Homo sapiens: one gene and its partner. The protein of the gene in region 1 interacts with the protein of each later gene in a biochemical or structural test. Each region holds a gene or a part of one and is shown on either strand. Other genes may lie near its edges. The genes, in order: SHROOM1 and MCAM.

Region 1 (15,879 bases):
AGTCCGCGCGCATGGACAGATGCCACAGGTCCAGGCTGCTAGTGGACGAGGCCGGGGAGGCGCGGTCGCCCCCAGGTCCCAGGGCCTCCATGGCTGCGCAGATGAGTGCTGAGGCTGGGTGGCTGCGTGGGTCCTGGGAAAACACAGATGTGGTGCCGGGTGAGGAGCTCCGGGTGAGGGCTGGGACAGCCTGCTGGCCCCGCCACCACGGACGGCCAGACACTTACACTTCCCCTCCCTGGTCACACCGTCACAAGCGCTGGCATCCCCCAGATTTTGGCAGAGTCACCTTGGGATCAGAGGTGGCAGAGGAAGTAGGACCAGTCCCAGGGAGCACCTCTGAAGGTTGAGGGCCCAGCTCAGGGGAAGGAATTGGGACCAGCTCATTCCCTGCCAGGCTCCCCTTGCCCACACAAGCAGCCTTTACCCTGAGACCTCCTGGAACGCTGAGAATGTACCCATGTTCCTTTCCTCCCCAACCCTGTTCCACCCAGGCTGCTTCCTGGCCGTTCTGTTGGCTTCTCCATGTGATCTTTCCCTGATAAACAATGGTCAAGAACACTCTTGTGACCTCAGGGGAGCTAAGAAAGGAGGGGTGGGGGAAGACCCAGGGCAAGGGGCAGAGGCAGCTTCACAGCCTTCCTCCCTCCCTCTGTGCCTGTTATGTTCCAGGTGCTTTATATAAATATTTATTTTGATCGTTGCAACTGCTGTCTGCATTTTACAGACAAGGACAATGAGGTTCTGAGAGGGAAATGATTTGTCCAGGGCCACACAGCTGGGACGTGGCAGAAGCCTGCCTGGAATCCAGGCCTGCCTCCACGCTCACTGCAGCCAGAATCAATTTCCTAGAAGCAAGCCCTGCTGAAAGGCAGTTTACCATCCCTCCTGTTCCCCAACAGCCTGAATCCTCCAAGGAAGCCCACACTCCACTATGGGAAAGTCACCCCTACCTCCCCATACACTATTGGCAGATTCCAAAATAATCTGGCCCCCACTTCTCAAACTCTGCCTTTCGTCTAGGAATGATGGGCCGACCCCCATCTTTGCCCTGCTTCTATTCTTGCTTCTCCTGTAGGACTCAGCTTAGAGGTCTCCTCACTTTTTGGGACTCCTACAGTGTGCTGAGCTGACCCCCACCCCACACTGTCCCTGTTGGCTTGCTTCTGATTCCCTCCTCCCATTCCCACCCCTGAGCTTCCTGAGAATGGGCCCTGCTCTTCCTCATTGCTGCACTCTCAGTGCCCAGCAGAGTCCCTGGCATACAGTCAATGTTAAATATTTGGGCCGGGTGCAGTGGCTCACGCCTGTAATCCCAGCACTTTGGGAGGCCGAGGTGGGCGGATCACTAGGTAAAGAGATCAAGAGCATCCTGGCCAACATCGTGAAACCCCATCTCTACTAAAAATACCAAAAATTAGCTGGGCGTGGTGGCACACGCCTGTAGTCCCAGCTACTCGGGAGGCTGAGGCAGAAGAATCGCTTGAACCCGGGAGGCGGAAGTTGTAGTGAGCCGAGATCGCGCCACTGCACTCCAGCCTGGCGACAAAGTGAGGCTCTGTCTCAAAACAAAACAAAACAAAACAAAACAAAACAAAACCCCAAATATTTGCTGAATGTCAAGGGAAATAACAGATTTGCAGGGAGTAGATGTAGGGGTGGCCTTGGTAGAGAAGGAAGAGAGTTCCTTAGCTTCTGCGCACGCTTCTTCCCTCCCTATTAGTCTTTTCTGGGGAAGAGGACAGAATGGGTGAAGCACTTGCCACCATAGACACTGGCCAGGTTCCTCATGCAATATTAGGTACGAACAGAGCAGGCAAGCACAGCTTGGGGCAGGACTCACCAGAAATCAATCCCTTCTGGTCCTGGGAGGGGGATCAAGGGTAAGAGTTGAGTGGGTGTGCCTGGGTCAGGGTAAGAGAAATTTTGAGGCTTGGGAAAGGGCAGTGTTGAGGTTTGGGGCTCCCTATGAACTATGGAGACTTTTGGGCGCTGGCCTCCATTCTCTGAGCTGCTTGGTAGGGAGTGCAGAGTAGGGTGGCCCACGGCTAGGGTGAGGACCAAAAAGCAGGCTTATTTGAGCCTCCTAGACACTATCTGGAGCTCAGAGTCACCCTCCACCCACGTCCCTGAGGCCCAGGATGTTACAGATTGCTGGTTAGGGCAAGGATGGGGGTTAGTGGTAGGAGGATATGGTGTTTCCTAAAAGGGAAAGGCAGTACCTACAACATTCCCAGGAGAGGCTCTCAGCAGACCTAGGACCAGAACATCTTGATGTCACCCACCTGGGGGCATTTGTATATGCCTACTAAGCCCAGGAGCTTAGCCCTCACACTTAGGGTTGGGGACCTCTTTTGCAAAGTATTTCCACTCTAAACTTTAGGAGGACAAGAAACTACTCTGAGTAGCAGCTCCTGGGAGGACAGTCCCCTCATCTAGGAAGCCCACCCGACTGCTCAGACATTAGCCCTTTCTCTTCCTACTCTTTCTGAGTCCAGCTTGGGAGCACTAGCTCATGTCACCCATCCTGCCCATTTTGGCTTGCTGCAGCTACAGATGGGGATCACCAAACACAAGATGTTTCCTCAAAAGAGGTCTTGAAAATCTATGAAAATCTATCTTATTTGTGAGTTACTATGTTAAAGGATTCTGAATTCAGCAAATAAAAACAGCTTGAATGGGCAATAAAAATGTGTCTACACATGTGTTTCCTTATTGACTGTAACTTGTTGAAGATGCTTTTGCACTGGTGGCCCTATCAGGTTGATGTTCACGCAGGCTCCTCACAGTGGGTGCTTTGCAGAACCTACCATGCCAAGAGGGCCCAGCTGCTTTGGTGTGTTTTGGGGGGCCTCAGCACAAAACAACAAGGCATTTTCATACTTGTCTGGCTGCAGGGAGCCTCTTGCAGTCCAGCCAGCCCCTGTGGCTGGGGGTAGCCCTACCTTAGGGGTCCCTGCCTCAGTGGCAGTGGTACCTGTGGGCTGGGCTGTTATGCCTGTGCCGGCTGCTGAAAGGGAGTTCAGAGGTGGAGCTCAAGGAGCTCTGCAGGCATTTTGCCAAGCCTCTCCAGAGCAGAGGGAGCAACCTAGACTCCCCGCTAGAAAGACACCAGATTGGAGTCCTGGGAGGGGGAGTTGGGGTGGGCATTTGATGTATACTTGTCACCTGAATGAAGGAGCCAGAGAGGAAGGAGACGAAGATGAGATTGGCCTTCAAAGCTAGGGGTCTGGCAGGTGGAGGCACCAGTCTGAAAGGAGGAGCTGGGGCTGAGGAATTGTCAAGGGGGCCAGTGCTCCTTCAGTCTGGGCTTCATGGTGTCTGTGACAAGTCAGGCAGCAGTTGGGATGTGGCTCTGGAGTTCAGCAGGGGAGGGTAGACCAGGCAAGACCCAGGTTTTTAGTTAGAGGTTACTGGGGAAATAGCTGAAGACAGTTTCCGGTGGATAAAATCACACCAAGGCAATGGGAACAGATCCAAGTAAGGCGACCGAGGAGGCACAGGAGAACGGACAGCCTCAAATACAACGAATGATCAGGATTTACATCATACCTCCCTCAAGGCCACCTCACATCTGACCTCTCTGTGGAGGGGCTATCCAGGCCGCCCCTCCCAGCGGGTCTTCCCTCAGTACTGGGCTCACTGTGTAGGCGCTGTCTCCCTGTCAGACTGAGTTCCTGGGTACTGGACCACGTCTCAAAACCCAGTACCCGCAGCTGGGTCTGGCTAGGCGGACGTTCTGGGAAGTTCACCGGCTCTCCCTGTCCCCAGCGTCCCCCGTTCTCCCAGCCTGTCCGCGCTGACAGCGCACCCCACGCAGCATCCACGCTCCGAGTGTGCGACTGGTTTACGGGCTCATCGGTCGCTGCACCCCAGATGCAGAGTCTCTGGAGACCCGAGCTCCGTGCCATGCACAGGAAATGCAGGAAGCTGGCGACACCCGGGGAGAGGCGGCCGCGGGCGTGGACAGACCCGGTTACCTGGGGTTCAATCTCTGGGAGCCGAGGCACGGGAGGGAGAGAGGCGCAGGCCCCGGCGGCCGCAGGGGGCGGCAGAGACACGCGGAGCGGCTCGACAGCAGATGGCCGCAGCCCCGCGCAGTTCTGGGCCTTTCCCGTTGGGTTCACCGTCGGGGAAGGATCGCGCGCAGGGGACAGCGCGAGCCCGGGAGGGAAGGACCCGGCTTCTCCAGATGCTTGGCGACAAAGGGCAGGAGCGGAGGGTGGCGGAGTGAGACCGCGCTGCCCGCCGGCGCCACACGCGGCGCGCCCAGCCGCGCCCCTGAGCCGCGCCGCCAGCTTAGAGTGGGCCGCCTCTCCGCCCTGCAGCTCTGCAGCTGGGAGAGGCGCGCTGGGGTCCGACTCCACTGGCGCAACCTGACGCGGCGCCGAGCCAGACACGTCCCGGCCGAACGATGCCCGGGCTGCCCCGCGACCACCGCCTCGCCGCCCGCTCTTCACCCCCGTCCGCCCGCAGCCCCGCCGGCCTCCCGGGGGAAGCGGACCCAGCCGCCCGCTTCCCGCTCCCCCGCCCCCGCCGCGTACCTGAGGCTCCCGCCGAGACGCGCTCCTGGGCCGTCGCAGCCGCGCGGTGACATCAGAGCCCCGGGCTCTGACTCCGACCCCACCTCCAGGCTCCGGCCGCGGCCTCAGGGGAGGCGCCACGTCCGGCCGCGGGGGCGGGAGCCGCAGCCTCTTGGTAGCGTCCGCGCGCCGGCCCAGTCCCAGGTCTGAGGGTGGACAGTGCGTTCCCGCGCGGGCCACAGGCCTCTTGCCCCAGGCCGGAGAAACCTGAGCGAGGTGGTGGGAGGGCGACTACGGCGACCGCCCACCGGCCTCCAGCGCGTCCGTGATGCTCGGGGGCCGGGTCCCTCGGGGCCTGACACCTCCCTCGGTGGGGAGGTCCAGGGCGGGCCCTTAGGCGCCTGACGGCTACCCGCTTTCCCCCCCAAGCCCGGCCAAGAAAACAGAGCTGCCAGGGCCTCGTGCCTCCCACCTGTCCCGCTGAGTAACTCGGCCCTTGATCAACTCTACCCCCAGACCCCCATTTCCAAAACTCTTCCAGCTCTTTGACTCCCACCATGGGCTCTTGTCTCCTGTTCCCTGTCCCATTTCTTTCCATTTCTCCCACTACCCAGCATGGTCTGGGCCCTCCAGCCTGCTACCGGGGTGGGGGAGAGGGGGGCGGAGCACGGGGAAGCCCCTGGACTTGTGTGCACCTTAGCTGTCCTGAGTGTGTCCTTAGGGAGCTGGACATATGCATACCCACTAAGGCTGGACACTGGCGCTCGAGGCCCTCACCTTCCAGGATCTCCATTTTCCAAAGAACGCTCTGCCTGCACCTGCCACTGAGCTCTCCTTGCTGTGTCCTCAGGCTCCCCTGCCCCGACTTCCCAAACTCTGTCCTATGAATACCACTCTGCCAAGAAATGCTCCGTTCCTGAGAGGGGCTGGGGACCCTTTGATGAGCCTCTCCGGCTCTCAGGTCTCTGCCTTTGTCCTCCGCTGCCCTCCCGCTCCCACAGGATCAACAGGGCTGGGCTCAGGGGCTGTGTCCTCCCATGGTAGTATCCCTGGCAAATAAAGGTTTATTGGTGTTAATAACCAGGACTCTGAACTCTGGCCAAGAGTCAAGGTTGCCACTTCCTAGGGACACTGGGAGCCTGAGGAACTCTGTCTTCTTGGGTCTTCTTGGGTTCGGAGGCAGGAGACACCTGAGCCCGACTTCTGAGAGTGGTGCCCGCTGGGCCCTGCTCCTTCTTCAACACCATCTGGACTCAGGCACCAGCTTCAGCTGGAGCGCTAGGCTTTAAGACAGTGCCTAAGAACCTTTCGGCTTTGAAAGACTTTTGTTGTTTGTTTTGCTTTTTTGAGACAGAGTCTCCCTCTGTCGCCCAGGCTGGAGTGCAGTGGCCGGATCTCTGCTCACTGAAACCTGCGCCTCCCAGGTTCAAGCAATTTTCCCTGCCTCAGCCTCCCAAGTAGCTGGGATTACAGGCACCGGGCACCACGCCCAGCTAATTTTTGTATTTTTAGTAAAGACGGGGTTCGCCATGTTGGCCAGGCTGGTCTCAAACTCGTGACCTCAGGTGATCCACCCACCTTGGCCTCCCAAAGTGCTGGATTACAGGCATGAGCTACCGCACCCGGCCTGAAAGACTTTTAATATTTTTAAGACCCTGATCCACAGAGTCTCACAGCAGCATCAAAATAGAAGAAAGACAGCCCAGCAAACAACAACAAAAAATTTTTAATTGCTCATGTTGGCTGGGGCGGTGGCTCATGCCTGTAATCCCAGCACTTTGGGAGGCCAAGGTGGGCAGATTGCTTGAGCTCAGGAGTTCGAGACCAGCCTCGGCAACATGGCGAAGCCCTGTCTCTACAAAAATACAAAAAAAAATAGCTGGACGTGGTGGCACGCACCTGTAGTCCCAGCTACTTGGAAGGCCTAGGCACAAGAATCGCTTGAACCGAGGAGGCATAGGCTGCAGTCTGCCGAGATCACGCTACTTCATTCCAGCCTGGGCAACAGAGTGAGATTCTGTCTCAAAAAAAAAAAAAATGGTTATGTTTTTTACTTATATTTCTTGAAAACTATGGGGACACAGTGTCCAGAACAATTCTATTAACCCACTCCACCCACCTACCACTCACCTCTTGCACACACTACAGCACCTCTCTGCTAGGGACCATGAGGACGCAGTCCAGAGCGATTCTTATTAACCCACTCCACCCACCTACCACTCACCTCTTGCACACACTAAGCAACTCTCTGCTAGGGACCATGAGGATGCAGTCCAGAGCGATTCTTATTAACCCACTCCACCCACCTACCGCTCACCTCTTGCACACACTAAGCAACTCTCTGCCTAAGTCCCCAGAAAACTGAAATCCCACCTACCCACGTCTCTCTTAACCTCTTCTGTTCTGAGAAAGAGAAAAGTAACCCCTAACATCTGAAAGGCCCAGCTGGACCTTGGTGTTGCCAGAATTTGACCTGACATTCACAGCAAGGCCTTACTGTTGTCCCATTGGACATAAGCCATTTCACAGGGCATCAATGTGAGACAGGGCCGTTCTTTAACAATGATGGATCAAGACAAAAACAACAGCACTCTAATCATGTCTAACACATACAAAAGCATGAACATTGTCCAAGTCACAAAAATGACCTAGCTAATGAGTGCCTGCTGTCCTAGCTAATGTGAGTACCTGCTGCTTCTTTACCAATTGCAGCTTTAGCCTCACTCTAATCATTCCTCTTTCTAGATAAGATTTATTAATATACCCAATCATAGAATTACTCTTGCTTCTTGACAGCATCCAGCACAAAGGAAAGTTCTGCTTCTTTAACCCTCTTGAAAAGCACTAACCCAAACCCAGATCCTCTAAGTCCTTTCCAATGCTCTCTTCCTGAGATGCCACGTGGTTTCCCATGCTACGTGTCCTCTCTCACTTCAACAAGCAATGAACCCAACTTGTTCAACTACAGGTGTGCTCGTGGTGGTCTTTGGCTAGGGGGCACTGATACTTCCTATCTCATTATTACAAAAGCACAGAGAATCTTGGAGAAGAGAAGGGGGAAGAAACTGCCACAAAGCTGGAGTCTCCCTTAGTGATGGTGGTTGGGGGGTGAGTGTGCATGGAGAGGGTGGAAACATGCACATATGCTTCCAATACATAAAGAGAGGTGTCTGCACCCTTCAGTATCTCAATACTTTCTCAGGCCTGGGGGAGTTCTTTTGAAGAGACCCTTAGATGGCTGTGTTTAGCTGGGATTAGAGCCACAGACCTTGCTGTTCCTGGCCAGGCCCTATATCAAGGAGCTGATAGGTGGGGAGGTGGTGGGCCTCCACTCCACATAGTTTGGCACTTGTAATCTGAACTGATGACACCAAAGCAAAGCAACTGCCCACCTCACAAGTCCCTGTGGTTTCTTGCTTTGATGCCCACTCTCTTTGTTGGATATGGTTAATGTGATGTGACTATGAGTGGAATACTAAAGACCACTTCTTTAGTGCCAAGCACTGTGCTAAGTGCTCTATGTATCTTTTTAGCCCTCTTACTCCTCAGAAGTAGGTATCAGTATAACCCCATTTTACAAGTGAGAAAGCTGGGACTTAGAGACATTATTTTGTCAAGGTCAGGTAGCTAATAAGCAGTAGAGGCAATACTTAACCCCCTAATGTCTGGTTCCAAAGGCCATGCTGTCATGTAAACATGAGCAGTGTAAAGAACTGTATGTTGTGGATATCAATGCAGCCTTCCTAGGAGAGCAGGATTTGGACTTCAGATTGAGCAGAACTCGCAAGCGAGCGGGAAAGATGAGACAGTAGCAGCAGTGAGACTCCAAACAGGACTTCCCCATCTCTGTGTGTCCCCAACAGTCCAACACATATGAGGGCTTAGTTTCATATATGATTTCCAGGGGTTTATTGTAAAGGACTTATAAAAACATTTCTTTCTGTAAGTACTTTTTTTTTTTTCAATAGAGATGGAGCTAGGTGTAGTGGCTCACACCTGTAATCCAAGCACTTTGGGAAGCTGAGGTGGGAAGATCACTTGAGGCCAGGAATTCGAGACCAGACTGAGCAATGCAGTGAGACCCAGTCTCTACCAAAACAAAATTTTTTTTTTTTTTGAGTAAGAGTCTCACTCTGTCACCCAGGCTGGAGTGCAGTGGGGTGATCTCAGCTCACTGCAACTTCCGCCTCCTGGGATCAAGTGAGTCTCACGTCTCAGCCTTCCAAGTAGCTGGAATTACAGGGGTGTGCCACCACATCTGGCTAATTTTTGTATTTTTAGTAGAGATGGGGTTTCACCGTGTTGCCCAGGCTGGTCTGAACCCCCGACCTCAGGTGATCCACCTACCTCGGCCTCCCAAAGTGCTGGGATTACAGGCATGAGCCGCCGTGCCCAGCCTTCACCTTTATTTTTTTCATTTGAAAGTATATCTTAGAGTTTATTCAAAGTAAGTACATAGGTTTTCTTGTTTGTTTGTTTGTTTTTTAAGACAGGCACATAGCTATGCATTGCATGGGCACAAATAAATTGGGTTAAATAACCCTATTATTGGACATTTAGATTAATCCAGTCTTTTGCTATTACTATTTTAGTAACAAATACCCTTGTTCATTTATTTTTGTTCACATTTGTAAGTCCACTTACAGGATAAATTTCTAAAAGATGAATTGGTGGGTTAAAGTGTAGGTAGTAGATTGTACTTTACAAAGACAATCATGAAAAAATTTTCCACCTCCCAAGCTTTTCTACAATGTGACTTTGCCACTACTCTACCCAGAAGAGGTGAGGTCTATTTCTCCATCCCCTTGGATAATGAGCTTAGGGGTGACAGTAACTGTTTTGACCAACAGAATGTAGCAGAAGGTATGTTGGGCTAGTTCTGGACATAGCCTTTAACTGGCCTGGTAGCTTCCACTTCTTGCCTCTTGGTAGTGCTACTACTCTGAGACCACTAAGCTATGAGAAATACAAGCTATATGGAGAAGCCCAGGAGTATGAGATAGCATGTGGAGAGGGAAAAGAGAGGCCAAGGAGCACTTAGGCATTGCACAGGCAAGTAACCAGGCCATCTTGGAAGCGAATCCTGCAGTGTCAGCCACCCCCGCTGACACCATACTGATCAGAGAAGAATTCCGCAGCCTAGCTCTTCCTGAATTTCTGACCCTCAAAAACATGAGCACAATAATTATAAAAGTGCAAACTACTAAGTTTGGGGGTAGTTTGTTACATGGTAATAGACAACTGTAACAGGGTACATGAATTTTCTATTTTGATTGATATTGTCAAATCACACTTACAAAGAGGCTATACCAATTTACAGTCCCATAAAAAATGTATACAAGCACACTGAGATGGTTTAGATCTGTGTCCCCACCCAAATCTCATGTTCAGTTGTAATCCTCAATATTGGAGGTGGGTCCTAGTGGGAGGCAATTGGATCATGGGGGCAGTTTCATCATGAATGGTTTAGCACTATCCCTGTTGGTCATGATAGTGAGTGAGTTCTCATGAGATCTGGTCATTTAAAAGTATGTGGCACCCACCCCTCCCCCTCTCTTGCTTCTGCTCTGGCCATGTAAAGGGTACCTGCTTCCCCTTTGCCTTCCACCATGATTGTAAGTTTCCTGAGGCCTCCTCAGAAGTGAGAATCTGCATTTCCTGTACAGCCTGCAGAACCGTGAGCCAATTAAACCTCTTTTCTTTGTTAATTACCTAGTCTCAGGTATTTATTTACAGCAGTGTGGGATTGCATTAATACACTCACTAACACAGTGCATTATCAACCTTTTTTTAGACGGGGTCTTGCTGTGTTGCCCAGGCTGGATTTGAACTCCCAGGCTCAAGTAATCCTCCTGCCTCCGCCTCCCCAGTAGCTGGGACTACAGGTGCACACCACTGTGCTTGGCCTTTTTAGCTTTTAAAGTGCCATGGACCATCCTGGCAGCCTTAGTCCAGGTCAGAGTGTGTAAGTGTTCCCAGTGCCATTGAGACTTGGGGTGATCCCCTTTGCCCACCAGTCTCTGTGGGACCAACCCCTGCCCTCTGGGGCCTCAAGTTTCCCTTCTGCAGAATGAGTGCTGTGGCCAACAGCTCCTGGGCCTGTCCCCTGCAAGCAGCCTGCCCCTGCAGGCACATGCCACCATGCCTAGTGCATTATCAAACTTTTGGATCTCTGAAATCTGAAAGGTAAAAATAATATCTGTCTTAATTTATATTGCATATATTATAAATTAGACTACACACCATTTTGTGTATTTTAAAGCCATTTGTATGTGATCTGGGATCTGTCAATTTTCTTTGCTCATTTTTCTATTAGATTATTGGTCTCATTGATTTGTAAGACCTCTTTAGGGCTGGGCACAGTGGCTCATGCCTATAATCCTAGTAGCATTTTGGGAGGCTGAGGTGGGCAGATTGCTTGAGCCCAGGAGTTGGAGACCAGCCTGTCTCTACAAAAGATTCAAACATTAGTTGGCCATGGTAGCACATGCATGTAGTTCCAGCTACTCCAGGGAGCTGAGGCGGGAGGATCACCTGAGCCCAGGAGGTTGAGGCTGCAGTTAGACATGATTGTGCCACTGCATTCCATCCTGAGTGACAGAGTGAGACCCTGTCTCAAAAAAACAAAACAAAAAAAAACCTCTTTATATATTAAGGTGATTAACACTTTTTCCTATGTGTGGCAAATATTTTTCCAAGTTTGTGTCCTTTGATTTTGTGTGTGGTTTAACAGTGGATCTGTAGTTCATAGGTGAAGCAACAGATGTGGTTTTGTTTTTTTTTTTTTTGAGATGGAGTCTTGCTCTGTCGCCCAGGCTGGAGTGCAGTGGCGCAATCTTGGCTCACTGCAAGCTCCGCCTCCCGGGTCCACGCCATTCTCCTGGGACTACAGGCGCCTGCCACCACGCCCGGCTTATTTTTTGTATTTTTAGTAGAGATGGGGTTTCACCATGTTAGCCAGGACGGTCTCAAATCTCCTGACCTCGTGATCCGCCGGCCTCGGCCTCCCAAAGTGCTAGGATTACAGGTGTGAGCCCCCACACCCAGCCCAGATATCTTTCTTTTAGGCAGCAGCTACATAGCTGGGCTACATAGCTGTCTCAATAATTCAGAGATGGTAATGTACTGGTTAAAGTATATTAGAGGTCAGAAACCTTTCAACAAAATCATGTTGTTTATTTTTAGAAATTCAACAAAGCGTGAATTATTGCTTATACACAAATGTCTACCTAAACTGTAAATGTTCTTCTGGGGTAAGTTTGTTTGCTTTCCGATTATGCACTGAATTCACCACAGTTGTCTAAAGATAGGGCTTTATAGGAAAGTAGAAAGTGCACAAGAAGGAAGTGCAGGGAGAATGAAGATTGCCTTCGCCGGTGGGGACACCTGACAGGCAGGGCCTCTTGGTGAGGCTGGGTGAGGGCTGACTGTTCCAGAGATTGAACCAGATTCCCTTTCAGATCAGCACTTCCTGGAAAGGAGTGCTGGGCTGTCACATCCCCATTAAGTACACATATGTCACCTTTTCCCTGCAGACATTGGGTGACACCCAGCCTCTGTTTGCTTTGGTCAGAATGACTTAACTTTTCTACTCCAGCCTGGCCCCCAGCCCCAGGCCTGAAACCATTCCATCCTTGTGGTCTTCATTCAGATGTTACTCACACATCCTTGGACAAAAGAGGATTCATGAAAAAGATGGATACAGGCTTCTTCTTCTCTGCCAACTTCAGTGGGCCCCGGACAGATAGGTGTGGGCAAATAAGCTTTTCCACTTTGCTCTTCTGGTCCCCTAAGGTTCATTTTGGTTTTCAAGAAAAGAAACTATCTCAGGCTCTGAACTCGGCCCCAAAAGCATTGCTTAGAGAAGGCAACAGCCTCCTCAGGCCCAGGAATGGCCAGACTGTCTCTCTTGTGTCCAGATCATAAAATGGGATGAGATAGTCTCTAAAAAGCCCCTCTCCTAAAACTGTCATTCTGTTTGAGCTAAACCTCCCAGATTTCTGCTTGCTGAGGAGTCACCCAGAATATTCAATGGAAGAAAAATCCAATTTGTGAGCTCTGGACCCCAGGCTGCACACAGAAGCTGCGTGATGGACTTGGTACAGAATTAGGTCACAGCATGCTATGTGCATGTGGATGAATTTTGGCTGGTGGCTCAGGAGACTGAGAATGCATGCCCTAAACATTCACCTAGAAAACTTTCCTGATTTTAACTGTGGTGTATCTCGTCAGTTACTCACATAGAGGACACTTTGTTCTAAAACCCGGGGGTATGCCCAGCATTCATCACAGTCTGGGCACTGTGTTTGTGGTCACATTTACCCCTGGCAGGGTCCTTAGGTCCTAGTTAGCAGCTTTTTCTACTTCAAGGGAAGCAGCAAGAAAAGTAAAAGACAAAACAAAAAACAACATAGCAAGTTACTTTTGACTTTCCTAGCAAATCACCTAGCAAGATGAAAGGGGAATGTGTCTCTTAACTGGATGACACCAAATGAATTATGGGGCAAAGGGCAACTGACAGCAACTGCCTAGGAGTGGCAGAGACAGATTTATAGACAGGCTCATTGCCCACCCTTGATTTCTCAAAATGAAACAGGGAGAGAAAGGTGTTCTTCAATTTGGTGTATCCCAGAGATAGAAAATCAGTGAAGTAGGAAAGAGTGTGAGTTTCAAAGTATGGTGACTTCAGTTTGAATACCAGTAGCTCTATGAACCTGGAGATGTCCCCACCTTCCTGAGCCTCCATTTCCTCATGTGTAAAACAAGGATACTACATACCTGCCAGATAAAGATTAAAGGAGATTTGATCACATAGAGTAGTGCCAGGCTCACAGTGGGCCACCAATAAGTGATGTTAGTTATCATTATTCCTCACTTGAGTTTCTCCTGAGAAATACAATCTCAACTAAACCCCAGTCCCAATTTTCTCTCTAAGGACTGGTTTATCCACCTGGGGTCTCCCATAGGTGTTGCTCATGCTGCTGGTAGTTTCTCTCCTAAGCTTCACTCACCATTCCGGCAAACAGGGCTGTAAACACTTTGTTCATATTGTGTAAGTCTTGGGGAGACAGAACTCCCCCTCCTGCTTTGAAAGCCAGCCCAGTCACTGTACAGGCCTGAGACCTGGACTTAATCAATTTGATGCTTCTTCCAGAAGCTGGGACTCTTACGTGAGTAAAAGAGAGACACTGGGACAGGTGAGAAATGATCACGAGTCAGGAGGCGCAAGGACAGTAGCAATCCCGGCCTGTCCCCTGCTCTTGCTGCGCAGCCTCCTTTGTTCTTGTTTATTTTCACAGCCTGGTTCTCCAGCCTTCTAGTCAATTCTGTGAACCACTAGGTCTCCTCCCAATACATTCCTTTTTTGAATGAGTCAGGCAGAGCTGCTTGCTATTGTTTGAAACGAAGAAGTTTCTAATGTGGAGCCAAGACACCTTTTTCATACTGCCAGGCAAGAGGAAAATCCAGCCTGTTGAGATTTGGGTGTTGAGAGCTGCCCTTTCCCTGGGAAAAGCAACTACTAGCAAAGAGGGCAAGAGAGATTTCCATAGCTGCCCCAGGGTTCAGGGGAGGCAGTGTCTCTGCCCTTTGATGTTGCTGGAAATCCTCTAACAACGCTTACACAATCTCAAAACTAGCAACTCAGGAAACAGGATAAAGCAGTGCAAGAGAAATACAAGGCAGGCAAGTTCCTGGTTCAAAGTCATAAACATTTGCCATAAAAATGAGAACAAGATTTCCCTTGATAAACAAAACAAAGGCAAGAAAATGTGGAGATTGGTTGCTTTTTCCTCTTGCTGTACTAAGGAGGGTTGACCTTGATTCTACCTTTTCTTTGCTCGACAGCATAGGCAAAAAGACTAAGCTGAAGTCAGGCCAGGGAGGAGACATAGGCGTCCATCCCATAGTTACCCCAACAGGGGACTGGGTGTGTCCTGAAGTTTCCTTTTTTCTTCCTTTCCCCACTAGCAAATGTCCCTGATAAGAACCCATCATGATGCTGAGTTACATGACCCCTGAGCCAAGTATCACCTCATCAGTGAAGCCTTCTTTGATATCCCCAGGTAGAGTTCGTTGTTCCCAGCCCTACATAATACTGCATTGGAGAGTATGTGGTCATTTAGTTGTCTGTCTGCCTCACTAGACCTATAGTGAGTGCTTTGATGGAAAGGACTATGCCTGGCAGTACCAGGCTCAGAAGTAATCTCAGAGTTTGTTGAATAAAATGAATGTGGGAGACCTGACTTCATGTGAACAGCTGTGTCATTCCTCTATTCTGTGAGTTCACAGTTGATAGCAACATGCCAAGAATGGCCTTGGCCTCCAGGCCCCGTATGTGTGTTGGTGGGGGGTATGGGAGTGGGAGAGTCCATGCAAACAGCATTTAAGGCACCAAATGGCCCTCCTAGGGAAGTGATTAAATTGAATAAAAGGACTTATTTAACTAGCAAGCAATTATTGAGTGTTCATGTACCAGTTGGCCCATACTTAAGGTAAGAGGCAGTGAACACATGTCCTAGGAGCCAGAAAGGAAATCAGCAGTACTCCTTCCACCAAGAGCCATTGCTGACAGCCCCTCTCTGCCCTGGCATCAGCCAGGGCCTGATGGCTCTGTCCATGAGCAGACTCATTGTCAGCCCTCACTTGGGGAACTGACTTTTTTGTTTAACTTTTTTGGGGCTTTCTGGCAAAAACCAGAAAGCCTGCTAGACAAATTCTAAGAGCTGTAACACTGGGAACCAACTTTTTTTTTTTTTTTTGAGACAGAGTCTTGCCCCGTTGCCCAGCCTGGAGTGCAGTGGCGAAATCTCAGCTCACTGCAACCTCCGCTTACTGGATTCAAGTGATTCTCCTGCCTCAGGCTTCCAAGTGGCTGGGATTACAGGCATGAGTCACCATGCCCGGCTAATTTTTTGTACTTTTGGTAGAGACAAGGTTTCACCATGTTGGTCCCAAACTCCTGACCTCAAGTGATCCACCCTCCTTGAACCAACTTCTAAAAAAACATTAGACCCTGGGGCCAGTCATTTCCTTCAAGTCACCACACTTCCTATATCACTCTCTCCTCTTGGTGGTTTTGACAAAAAGATGTGACTTGCCATACCCTAAGAAGCTGCTTTCTTTTCAGAGCAGATTGCTTTGGTCACTCACTTGGGCACAGCAATGAGAGGTCTAGGGAGGTGCTGCCATGAATGGAAGCAAGGACTTTCAAGAGAGTTCATTTGGACCCCATTCTTTTCTTTTTTTTTTTTTTTGGCAGAGTTTCACTCTTGTCGCCCAGGTTGGAGTACAGTGGCGCAATCTCAGCTCACTGCAACATTTGCCTCCCGGGTTCAAGTGATTCTTCCGCCTCAGC
Region 2 (11,513 bases), on another chromosome or scaffold:
CCACCCTTGGGCCAGGTGTGGTAGCTCACACCTGTAATCTCGGTGCTTTGGGAGGCCAAGGCAGGAGGATCTCTGGAGGTGAGGAGTTCAGGACCACCTTGGACAACATAGGGTGACCCTGTCTCTACAGAAAATAAAAAAATTAGCCAGGCATGGTGGTGTGTGCCTGTGGTCCCAGATACTTGGGAGGCTGAGGCAGGAGGATCATATGAGCCCAGGAAATGAAGGCTGCAGTGAGCTAGGATTGCACCACCACACTCCGGCCTGGGTGACAGAGCGAGACCCCATCTCTTAAAAAGAGCTGTCCCTATGGTACTACACAGGAACTGCCTTATATTTTCATTAAGCTTTTAACTTAAAAAAATTATACAAATGGTACTTGAAAATATTTTCATGAGAATTTAAACTGACAAAAAATCTAGAAGTTTCTTCTTGCCTGAGACCCCCCCTCCCAGAAATAATCTCTGCTATCAGGGTGTGTTCTTTCAAGCCTATTTCTATGTATTTGCTCATATATAGAAATATTTCTAGAATGATATAGGCTTCTGTGTTTTATTATCTAAATCAGTCATTCTTAACCAGGGGTGATTTTGTACCCCCTCCTCCTAGGAGATACTTGGCAATGTCTGGAGATATTTTTGGTTGTCACACATAGAGGGGGTGCTACTGCCATCTAGTAGGTAGAGAGACCAAGGATGTTGCTAACATCCTATAGGGCACAGGACAGCCCCCACAATAAAGAATCAACGTGGCCTAAAACATCAGTAGTGCTGGCTGGGCTCACGCCTGTAATCCCAGCACTTTTGGAGGCCAAGGTGGGCGGATCACCTGAGGTCGGGAGTTCAAGACCAGCCTGTCCAACACGGAGAAACCCCATCTCTACTGAAAATACAAAAGTAGCCGGGCGTGGTGGCGCATGTCTGTAATCCCAGCTACTCAGGAGGCTGAGGCAGGAGAATCACTTGAAGCCGGGAGGGAGGTGGAGGTTGCGGTGAGCCGAGATTGTACCACTGCACTCCAGCCTGGGCAACAAGAGTGAAACTCTGTCTGAAAAAAAAAAAAAAAAAATTATCAGTAGTGCTGAGAAACCCTGGTCTAAGTGGTGGTGTATGGTATACATTGTTAGACAATTTCTTTTATACAATGTTTCTGGGTCAGTCTATTTAGATCAACTGATCGTTTTGCTTACTGCCAAGTTTTCCATACTACGCATAGCAGGTAGTCGAGTTCACCATTCCCCATTTAGTGGACATCTAGACGGCTGCTCGTTTTTATCATTGCAGCATTCTTTGCACACATCCTTGGATATGAGCAGACATGAAAATGTTTTTCTAGGGTTGACACTGAGCAGTAAAAGTGCTGGGTTGAAGGGTTTCCAGCTTGCATTTGTACCTGGCCTTCTACAGGGGACAGGGGGCTATTTAGATGGTCCCCTGCCAACCCCAGTGGACAACCCTAGGGTGGGGCTGGAGGTGGGGCTGAGGCTGAGTCTTCCTCCCCTTCCTCCCTGCCCAGGGGTCCACATTCAGTCGTCCCAGACTGTGGAGTCGAGTGGTTTGTACACCTTGCAGAGTATTCTGAAGGCACAGCTGGTTAAAGAAGACAAAGATGCCCAGTTTTACTGTGAGCTCAACTACCGGCTGCCCAGTGGGAACCACATGAAGGAGTCCAGGGAAGTCACCGTCCCTGTTTTCTGTGAGTACTAACCTGACTCTCTGCTTACTGGGGCTGGGGCTGCTGGAAACTCCTGCTGGCTCCCCCTTATCCAGCCCAGGGTTGACTCATGGGCCAAGAGCTACCCCCTTTGCCTATGCAGACCCGACAGAAAAAGTGTGGCTGGAAGTGGAGCCCGTGGGAATGCTGAAGGAAGGGGACCGCGTGGAAATCAGGTGTTTGGCTGATGGCAACCCTCCACCACACTTCAGCATCAGCAAGCAGGTGTGGGGGCTTTGTGCTGGGTGCAGGTGGGGATGCAAGCAGAGACCCAGGTGGAGTGGCGGGAGGTGCACTCTGCTCACCTCCCCAATCCTCCCTAGAACCCCAGCACCAGGGAGGCAGAGGAAGAGACAACCAACGACAACGGGGTCCTGGTGCTGGAGCCTGCCCGGAAGGAACACAGTGGGCGCTATGAATGTCAGGGCCTGGACTTGGACACCATGATATCGCTGCTGAGTGAACCACAGGAACTACTGGTGAACTGTGAGGGGCTGGGGACCCAGGACAGGGGGACCAGGCTGGGGCAATAGGGAACTGGCCCCACCCTGCCCTGGGTGACATGATTGCTGTACCCCCAGATGTGTCTGACGTCCGAGTGAGTCCCGCAGCCCCTGAGAGACAGGAAGGCAGCAGCCTCACCCTGACCTGTGAGGCAGAGAGTAGCCAGGACCTCGAGTTCCAGTGGCTGAGAGAAGAGGTACCCAGGCGGGTCTGGGGCAAGGGGCTGATGGGGTGGGTGGGGCTGGCGGTGACAAGAATGTGCTCTTTCCCAGACCCTCTGACCCATCTCTCATCCCAGACAGGCCAGGTGCTGGAAAGGGGGCCTGTGCTTCAGTTGCATGACCTGAAACGGGAGGCAGGAGGCGGCTATCGCTGCGTGGCGTCTGTGCCCAGCATACCCGGCCTGAACCGCACACAGCTGGTCAACGTGGCCATTTTTGGTGAGGCCCTCCCTCTGGGTAGAGACCAGGTCACCCCAAGTGGGGTGGTTTTTAAGCTCTTTGACAAAAAGCCACCTGCTGCCCTGGGGAGCTCTGGTGCGGAGGGGGAGGCAGGCTAGCTGGGCTTGCCACCTCACCTCTCCCTACCTCCCCAAGGCCCCCCTTGGATGGCATTCAAGGAGAGGAAGGTGTGGGTGAAAGAGAATATGGTGTTGAATCTGTCTTGTGAAGCGTCAGGGCACCCCCGGCCCACCATCTCCTGGAACGTCAACGGCACGGTGAGCGGGTGTCTCATCTGCCACACTCTCCTAATCCCTGCCTGCGCTTTGTGGCCAGGACCAGAGATCCTCCCCATCCCCTGAGCTGCCTCCTTCCTTTCCTCGCAGGCAAGTGAACAAGACCAAGATCCACAGCGAGTCCTGAGCACCCTGAATGTCCTCGTGACCCCGGAGCTGTTGGAGACAGGTGTTGAATGCACGGCCTCCAACGACCTGGGCAAAAACACCAGCATCCTCTTCCTGGAGCTGGGTGAGGGCTGCATCCCTGCAGGGGATGGCAGGGGCAGGCCCAGGCACGGGCAGTAACTTGCGCTTCTCCTAACACCCCTCCCTCTGCCTCCTAGTCAATTTAACCACCCTCACACCAGACTCCAACACAACCACTGGCCTCAGCACTTCCACTGCCAGTCCTCATACCAGAGCCAACAGCACCTCCACAGGTAAGCCAGGCCTGGCAAGAGAACAGGGCTGTGCCAGGGCATCCTTTCTGCCCTGTCCCTCCCCAGAGAGCCCTGTCCAGAAAGGTGAGTAGCAGCCCCATCTTGTCGGCCCTGGACTGGCTGGGCCAACGATGGTGACGAAGTGGCCTGGGGCAGGGAGTGACGAGGAGTGTCTTTGTGGCGCAGAGAGAAAGCTGCCGGAGCCGGAGAGCCGGGGCGTGGTCATCGTGGCTGTGATTGTGTGCATCCTGGTCCTGGCGGTGCTGGGCGCTGTCCTCTATTTCCTCTATAAGAAGGGCAAGCTGCCGTGCAGGCGCTCAGGGAAGCAGGAGATGTAAGCCCAACACCGGCCCCTCCGCCCCCGCCCGTTTTGCCACCCAGCCTGCTGCCTGCCCAGCGCCCGCCTGCCCCTTGACAGCAGGAGTGGGGCCCTGGGTCAGGGTGCTGCCTGCTCCACTACCCACTGCCCAGCTTCCATCAGCCACATGGTCTCATGACCTGCTTCCCTGCCCTGGGCTGGCCCTGGAGCAAGGAGCCCTCATCCATTCCACATCCTTCACAGCGGGCCCTTCTCTTCCTGTGGCCCTGAGATACCAACCTCTCACCTCCCTCCCTCCTCCCAGCACGCTACCCCCGTCTCGTAAGAGCGAACTTGTAGTTGAAGTTAAGTCAGATAAGCTCCCAGAAGAGATGGGCCTCCTGCAGGGCAGCAGCGGTGACAAGAGGGCTCCGGGAGACCAGGTAGGAGGCGGTTCCTGTGGCCAGAGCCTGCCACATCCTCAGGGACCGGGGGCAGTAGGGACTAACGGTTCTCTCTATCCTTCATCCCTCTTTGTCAGAGATAGGGAGCAGGCCCCATCTTGCCTTCTTAACACTACTCACAGATGGCAGGGCCAAGCAAGTGGCTGAGGGAGCTTGGAGGAAGACTGAGAAAGACCCTGTCCCATCACCTTTTCCTGACCAATGCCCGTGGCTCTGGGTGTGGCCATTTCACCAGTGCAGTCAGACGGGGGCCGCCCTCCTTCCCTGGCCTGCCATGCCCATCCTAGCTTCCTCCCCAACGCTGCCCACCAAATTCATCGGCTTCTGCTTCCATCTCTCCTTCCTCTCGGTGCTCACACCTTCAACTCAGCACCGTCTCCGTGTTCCCCTCTTCTCCTCTACCCACTTTTAGGGAGAGAAATACATCGATCTGAGGCATTAGCCCCGAATCACTTCAGCTCCCTTCCCTGCCTGGACCATTCCCAGCTCCCTGCTCACTCTTCTCTCAGCCAAAGCCTCCAAAGGGACTAGAGAGAAGCCTCCTGCTCCCCTCGCCTGCACACCCCCTTTCAGAGGGCCACTGGGTTAGGACCTGAGGACCTCACTTGGCCCTGCAAGGCCCGCTTTTCAGGGACCAGTCCACCACCATCTCCTCCACGTTGAGTGAAGCTCATCCCAAGCAAGGAGCCCCAGTCTCCCGAGCGGGTAGGAGAGTTTCTTGCAGAACGTGTTTTTTCTTTACACACATTATGGCTGTAAATACCTGGCTCCTGCCAGCAGCTGAGCTGGGTAGCCTCTCTGAGCTGGTTTCCTGCCCCAAAGGCTGGCTTCCACCATCCAGGTGCACCACTGAAGTGAGGACACACCGGAGCCAGGCGCCTGCTCATGTTGAAGTGCGCTGTTCACACCCGCTCCGGAGAGCACCCCAGCAGCATCCAGAAGCAGCTGCAGTGTTGCTGCCACCACCCTCCTGTCTGCCTCTTCAAAGTCTCCTGTGACATTTTTTCTTTGGTCAGAAGCCAGGAACTGGTGTCATTCCTTAAAAGATACGTGCCGGGGCCAGGTGTGGTGGCTCACGCCTGTAATCCCAGCACTTTGGGAGGCCGAGGCGGGCGGATCACAAAGTCAGGACGAGACCATCCTGGCTAACACGGTGAAACCCTGTCTCTACTAAAAATACAAAAAAAAATTAGCTAGGCGTAGTGGTTGGCACCTATAGTCCCAGCTACTCGGAAGGCTGAAGCAGGAGAATGGTATGAATCCAGGAGGTGGAGCTTGCAGTGAGCCGAGACCGTGCCACTGCACTCCAGCCTGGGCAACACAGCGAGACTCCGTCTCGAGGAAAAAAAAAGAAAAGATACGTGCCTGCGGTGAGGAAGCTGGGCGCTGTTTTCGAGTTCAGGTGAATTAGCCTCAATCCCCCGTGTTCACTTGGCTCCCATAGCCCTCTTGATGGATCACGTAAAACTGAAAGGCAGCGGGGAGCAGACAAAGATGAGGTCTACACTGTCCTTCATGGGGATTAAAGCTATGGTTATATTAGCACCAAACTTCTACAAACCAAGCTCAGGGCCCCAACCCTAGAAGGGCCCAAATGAGAGAATGGTACTTAGGGATGGAAAACGGGCCTGGCTAGAGCTTCGGGTGTGTGTGTCTGTCTGTGTGTATGCATACATATGTGTGTATATATGGTTTTGTCAGGTGTGTAAATTTGCAAATTGTTTCCTTTATATATGTATGTATATATATATATGAAAATATATATATATATGAAAAATAAAGCTTAATTGTCCCAGAAATCATACATTGCTTTTTATTCATCATGGGTACCACAGGAACCTGGGGGCCTGTGAAACTACAACCAAAAGGCACACAAAACCGTTTCCAGTTGGCAGCAGAGATCAGGGGTTACCTCTGCTTCTGAGCAAATGGCTCAAGTTCTACCAGAGCAGACAGTCACCCTACTTTTCAGCAGCAAAACTGCCCTGATGACGCAGCACGAAGGGCCTGGCAGGCTGTTAGCAGGAGCTATGTCCCCTTCCTATGCTTTCCTGCCACTTGGAACTGCCCTCCAGACAGCAGCTCAGGCTCACCGCCATGAGGAAGGGGGCCTTGGCATTTGGTCCTACGGCAACTCGAGTATTGCCTCCCAACCCCCTGAATGAGCAAGAACTCAAGTCTGCTACAACAAAAGAAACTTTATTTAAAAATATTTTTTTACAGACATGGGTGCTTGAAAAAGCTCTTTAGTTAACTAACTGTGTATGGAAATGAAAAAAAATTAATAAATAACATTAGTAAAACAGACTTCTAAACATTAATACACTGGCAAAATAAAATGGACTTAAAATGAAAATGAATCTTAAAGCTCTGCTATTCTCTGTAAGAATATTTACCTTCTGTTTTTCTTATTCTTTACAGGTGAGAATGATTAAATACTGCTAATATAAATTTTTTATATTAATGACACATTTTTAAAATAGTCCACGAAAATCTCACCTATGTGTTTGTTTTGTTTTCTTCTTAACACTGATATACAAATTGGGACTCTTCATTCTGGAGAAAGCATCAGGTTCTCTCCAGCACTCCCAGGCTAAGAATTTCAAAATCTTGAATAAGGAGGACTTTAAAATTTCTGTCTCCCAATTCTTTATTAGTTAAAGGCAGGGGAAAACTGAGGAAAGGGTAAAAGATAAGTAAGATGTCATTATATAGAAAAACTTTTGCTAAAGCTCACTATAGTCACATTACTGAGGACAGGCTTCTGGTCCCATGTTCCTTGCTGCCCTTCCCTGGGGAAACCAGGCCCTGCAGAGGGCACTAGCTGCTTAATGCTTTAAGTCTGAAGCCTTCAAATGAAAGGCCAGCCACATCTGATGGGGGCTGGGGGGTGGGGGCAGGAGGTCTAGACCAGTTCAGGATCCAGCAAAAAGAAAAGACAAAGCCACCAACCTCCCCTTCTCAGGAGAGTCCATCCTATACTCCTCGACACAACTAGGTAATTAATGTCATCAGAAGGCTAGGACACTTGGAATGGTCCAGAGTTTACCTGGGAATTGTGAAACATTCTGTCTTTTGCAGGAGACAAGGCATGCAACCTGATAACTAAGCTTGTGATTGGAACCAACCAAATGATCCCAGGGTACAATGCTTCTCTCCTCCACTGAAGTCTCACAGCAGGGGAAAGGGACTCCAGACACACTGCACCTGCATGTCACCTCTCCAGTCACAGAGAGCATTCTTTCCTGTCTCCTAGACACTAAGGACTAATGAAACTCAAGGTAGAGGAGCTCAGACTCTGGTATTTCCATATTAAGTCCTAAAATGCAGCCTGGGATACAGTGCTGCCTTAGAAAGGCACAAAACATTTGGCTTTTTTTTTTTTTCAGTGTGCTAAAAATTGTTTTGTTTTGAGTAAAGGAAAAAGATATATAAGGTTAAAAATCCCAAGTCACCACAGCCAGAAAACAGACGTAGGAGGTGCCTCATAGCTGCCATGCCCCTACCACATGTGTCAGCAGGAAGTCAGGCTTTTCTTTCAAGGCCAAGACACTAGAACAGTGCTGAGCAGGGTAGGTCAGGAGGCATTTACTCTCATGGGCATTGCGTTGCAGGCTCACTCACCCAGACAGCAGGAGAAACAGGCCATGGAAGACAACACGTGGTCTACAGACTCATAAGTAGTTCTCTGCCTCTCCAGTTTTAAGATGGCCATAAGCATGGCCACCCTCACCCACAAGAAGGTCAGAGGTAGGTAGAGAGGAGGGAGCTGACACACAGGCACCCAGGACACCCTGCTTCAGGGCTCAGCATGGAGGTGGCACAAGGCCTGAGGAGTTGCACATAGCACGCATTGAGCAATACTCCTCTCTGGCCTCCTGTCTGATTTAGGGGCAGAAGGAGAATGTAGGAGAGGCAATGTTGGTGGGGAGGGGGCGGGGCCTGACATTCATTTTTGGGACTGAATCAGGCAATCAGGACTCTGCTGATTTCTTCAGCTGCCAAATCAGGAGATCTGAGGTTGGCTTTTGGGCTTTGCTCTGTACAAACACAGGGAGTGGTCGGCTGCATTTTTCTCAAGCTCTGTACCCAGGAAGGGGCGGCAAGAGCACCACACAGCTTAGTCTGTCTGTCAACAGCCGGCCCTTCCACCCGTGCTCCCCACCTGACTCGCCATGGACATGCGGGGCTTGCTCTCCCCATCCCTATTTCCCCATCTCCTACTCTTTTGCTACTTTCCAGAACCAAGAAATACTGGTATTTCCCACTGGAACCAACCCAGATTTCCTGGGACACAGTGAAGGCACATGGCACTGCTGTCCCTCTGCTGCTTAACTCAGGAGCCTAGTCTACAACATCAAAGGCAAAGTCTGATGACCCACCCTTCCTCCCTTGATGGACATCTTTGGATTATTAGGTAACTTCTGTGTGTATCAAATGACTCTAGTAGTTTAAAAAACTTTTAAGTAAGGCAGTATGAAATACCTTACAACTCAGGACAGGCTCTGAGATGAGAGAAATATAAGATCAAAAGATTTAGGCAAGCAAAAGCATAGTTTTAAAAAAAAACAGAAAAGGAAAGCTTTTATATAGGACTAAAATGAAAGCAATTGCCAGAGAAGACACAGGTATACTGTCTAAAGAGCTCTCGGTAAAAACTCTATCCTAAACTGGAATCTATATTTAATTTCTATCCTGGCAACTGCTCCAATATTATATATTCTTACTGGCTCTGGCAAAGTAGTTTCTGAGGTGCCTAGGAAGGCTTGCCTGAGAACATTACTGCAGAGCGGCCCTCACACAGGAAGGAGCGAGAGGGTGAGGAGGAGAGTGGAGGAGACAGGCCACAAGCCCAGAGAATGAACATTTTCAAGCACTCAAACCTGAAGAGGACCCAGAAGTCCATGGATAGTGGCTACAGTGGAACCCGTTATTAGATTCTGCTCTCTAAATAAACACGGAAGAAGGCAAAAGACCTGAGGCTGAATGGAGGCTAAGGAAGGCTACCCAGGAACAGGCTAGCTCTGGAACAGGACAGGCTGGCCCACAAGAGGGAGGGAAGAAATCTTGGATGCGAAGACTGACAAAGGGAAGAAAAACAGGAAATAAAGAAGACAATGACCAGAATTAAGTTAAACCTAAGAATTTCTATGATGTCCCAGACAAACTCCTGTGCCTTCCTGTCCACTAAGCAAAAAGGCAGGAGTAGTGGCTTTACTTCTTGAGTAGAAGCCTTTTTAGGGTGTCTGTGGAGTCTCTGCTCACTTCTCTGAGAAGCTCCCTGTCTCCAGCTGAAGGAGCCTGCCACATCTCTGCTCTCCCTGGCAAGGCCAACTGCTCAGAGATAGATACTTGATCAATGTGCTGGGCTGAGTGTAGTTTTTTTTAAGAATACGAAGTATGGGCCGGGCGCGGTGGCTCACGCCTGTAATCTTAGCACTTTGGGAGGCCGAGGTGGGTGGATCATGAGGGTCAGGAGTTCAAGACCAGCCTAGCCAAGACGGTGAAACCCTGTCTCTACTAAAAATATGAACATTAGCTGGGCATGGTGGCAGGCGCCTGTAATCCCAGCTACTCGGGAGGTTGAGGCAGAGAACTGCTTGAACCTGGGAGGCAGAGGTTGTGGTGAGTTGAGACTGCACCACTGCACTCCAGCCTGGGCGACACAGCGAGACTCCATCTCAAAAAAAAAAAAAATTAAGTATGGGAAATTGAGAATTTGTTCATGGTGATCCCCAGAGTTGGAAGGTGGTGTAGACTTGAGGACTAGAGTGCCTATTTGGGGGCCACATATACCATAAGCAGACTGTGAAGCGGGAGAAAGGACTAGGTGCAAAGCTCTGCAGTTCCAGCTCCACCCAAGAACCAAAGGCACTTCCCGTCCTGGGTTCTGCGAAATACCCTGCATCCTTACCACAACTCCACTCCCTCCTTTATTCCGCTTGAACATTTCTGTTTCTTGGATCCAAAGAATCCCTAAGCAGTCAAAAATATAACCTTGACCGTCCTTCACTATCCACCACCCTCTAGGCATTAAGCCGTTCTATGTATTTCCAACAAAACACTGCTCATGGAGACTGAGTTCAAAGGAGTGATAGTAATAGTTTATGCTGAGTTACAGTATTTTAGATTGAGCTTCTAAAGCTCTAAGGTCTGGTAGAATGATGTGTGGACACTAAGCTTTAGAATCCCTAAACTCCTTGCTCTGGGAGGGAGGTAAAGGCTGACAATTAGGGGACTGATGGAGTTCAATCTGTATTAATGTCTGGCTCTTGGAAGACCCAACAACTGACTAAAGGATCTTTGGGTCCTGAGACCCGAAGACAGGGCCCACACCTCCAGCCCTTCTAAAACATAGTTAGCCACAACGGTTGTTGAAAGACTGGAAAACCAATTCCAAATAGTACAGGACATGGTGACAGGTCCCATAAGGGTGATACGAAAATCCTCCCAACAAGGGGGATTAGGGACGTAGCAGCTCAGGAAAAAGTTCAAGGAAGGCACTAGATTGGAAAGGGGAGTGTGGGCAGATGCTTTGCTTAAACATTTAATGCCCTACTGTGCAACTCTGAGCCAACTTACCTTTCAACTCACCAAACAGATTCTAATTATGTTGGAACAAATTCCAACATAAAAACAGTCGGTATCCATGACACTTACACCAAGGAATCTCCCAGGCATTATCAAAGCTACAGGAGACAACAGGGGATAATGGGAGAATCTTGGCCTGTTATTAACCAGGATAGCTCTATGAGGAAAGGTAAGTCTACATGGAAGAGCTGTGAATAAAAATTGCACAATCTTACTGGGAAGAGCTATTTTAAGGTCAAACGCAGAGGCTATGACAGTCCAAGTACAATCCCCCAAACATTAGTAAACTACTATGTGGCGCCAAGGGAAGGACACATACCTGACATTTCTGGCACATGGTCATCACTCATAAACATTTGCTGGATGAACAAACAAACTGTTAGAGCCAGACCAATAGTCAGAAAACTATTTTTCAATGAACAGTGGTCATTCCAGAGTCAGAAAGGCCAACGGCAAGAAGAGGGACTTATAGTTTGAGAAGGTCTATAATCTTCTGACTTTAATGACGTGAGGTAGGAGAATATTCTGCTTTATCACCATTGCTGAACACCTACAAAAAGAACTAGATCTTAAAGGGAATATATAGATGGTCCCTAGTTTTTACAAGGAAATTTTGTTATAAAAATTTGTGAGTTGACTGTTTGGGACCATAAACACATTTTACTTTTCTATAGAGAAAACACATATTTTAAGAGTGATGAACAGTGACCCCCACCTCCCTTAACCAGAAATCTTTTAAATCTACAAAATAGTTAAATAATACTAACAGTAGTATCCCACATCTT

Evidence for each region.
Region 2: the proteins of SHROOM1 (region 1) and MCAM form a complex in vitro, tested with the Homo sapiens proteins (one study listed by BioGRID).

What each region holds. Positions count from the first base shown.
Region 1 is NC_000005.10:132,826,050-132,841,928, forward strand, and holds the start of SHROOM1 (protein Shroom1), read right to left. Parts: upstream 4,599-15,879; 5' UTR 4,545-4,598; exon of another isoform or gene 1,559-4,544; 5' UTR 1,412-1,558; exon of another isoform or gene 539-1,411; 5' UTR 228-538; exon of another isoform or gene 134-227; 5' UTR 92-133; coding exon 1-91. UniProt on the Homo sapiens protein: May be involved in the assembly of microtubule arrays during cell elongation.
Region 2 is NC_000011.10:119,302,952-119,314,464, reverse strand, and holds the end of MCAM (cell surface glycoprotein MUC18 precursor), read left to right. Parts: intron 1-1,452; exon of another isoform or gene 1,453-1,515; coding exon 1,516-1,695; intron 1,696-1,816; coding exon 1,817-1,938; intron 1,939-2,036; coding exon 2,037-2,199; intron 2,200-2,294; coding exon 2,295-2,413; intron 2,414-2,515; coding exon 2,516-2,657; intron 2,658-2,813; coding exon 2,814-2,935; intron 2,936-3,043; coding exon 3,044-3,185; intron 3,186-3,279; coding exon 3,280-3,375; intron 3,376-3,561; coding exon 3,562-3,709; intron 3,710-3,998; coding exon 3,999-4,116; intron 4,117-4,549; coding exon 4,550-4,579; 3' UTR 4,580-5,936; downstream 5,937-11,513. UniProt on the Homo sapiens protein: Plays a role in cell adhesion, and in cohesion of the endothelial monolayer at intercellular junctions in vascular tissue.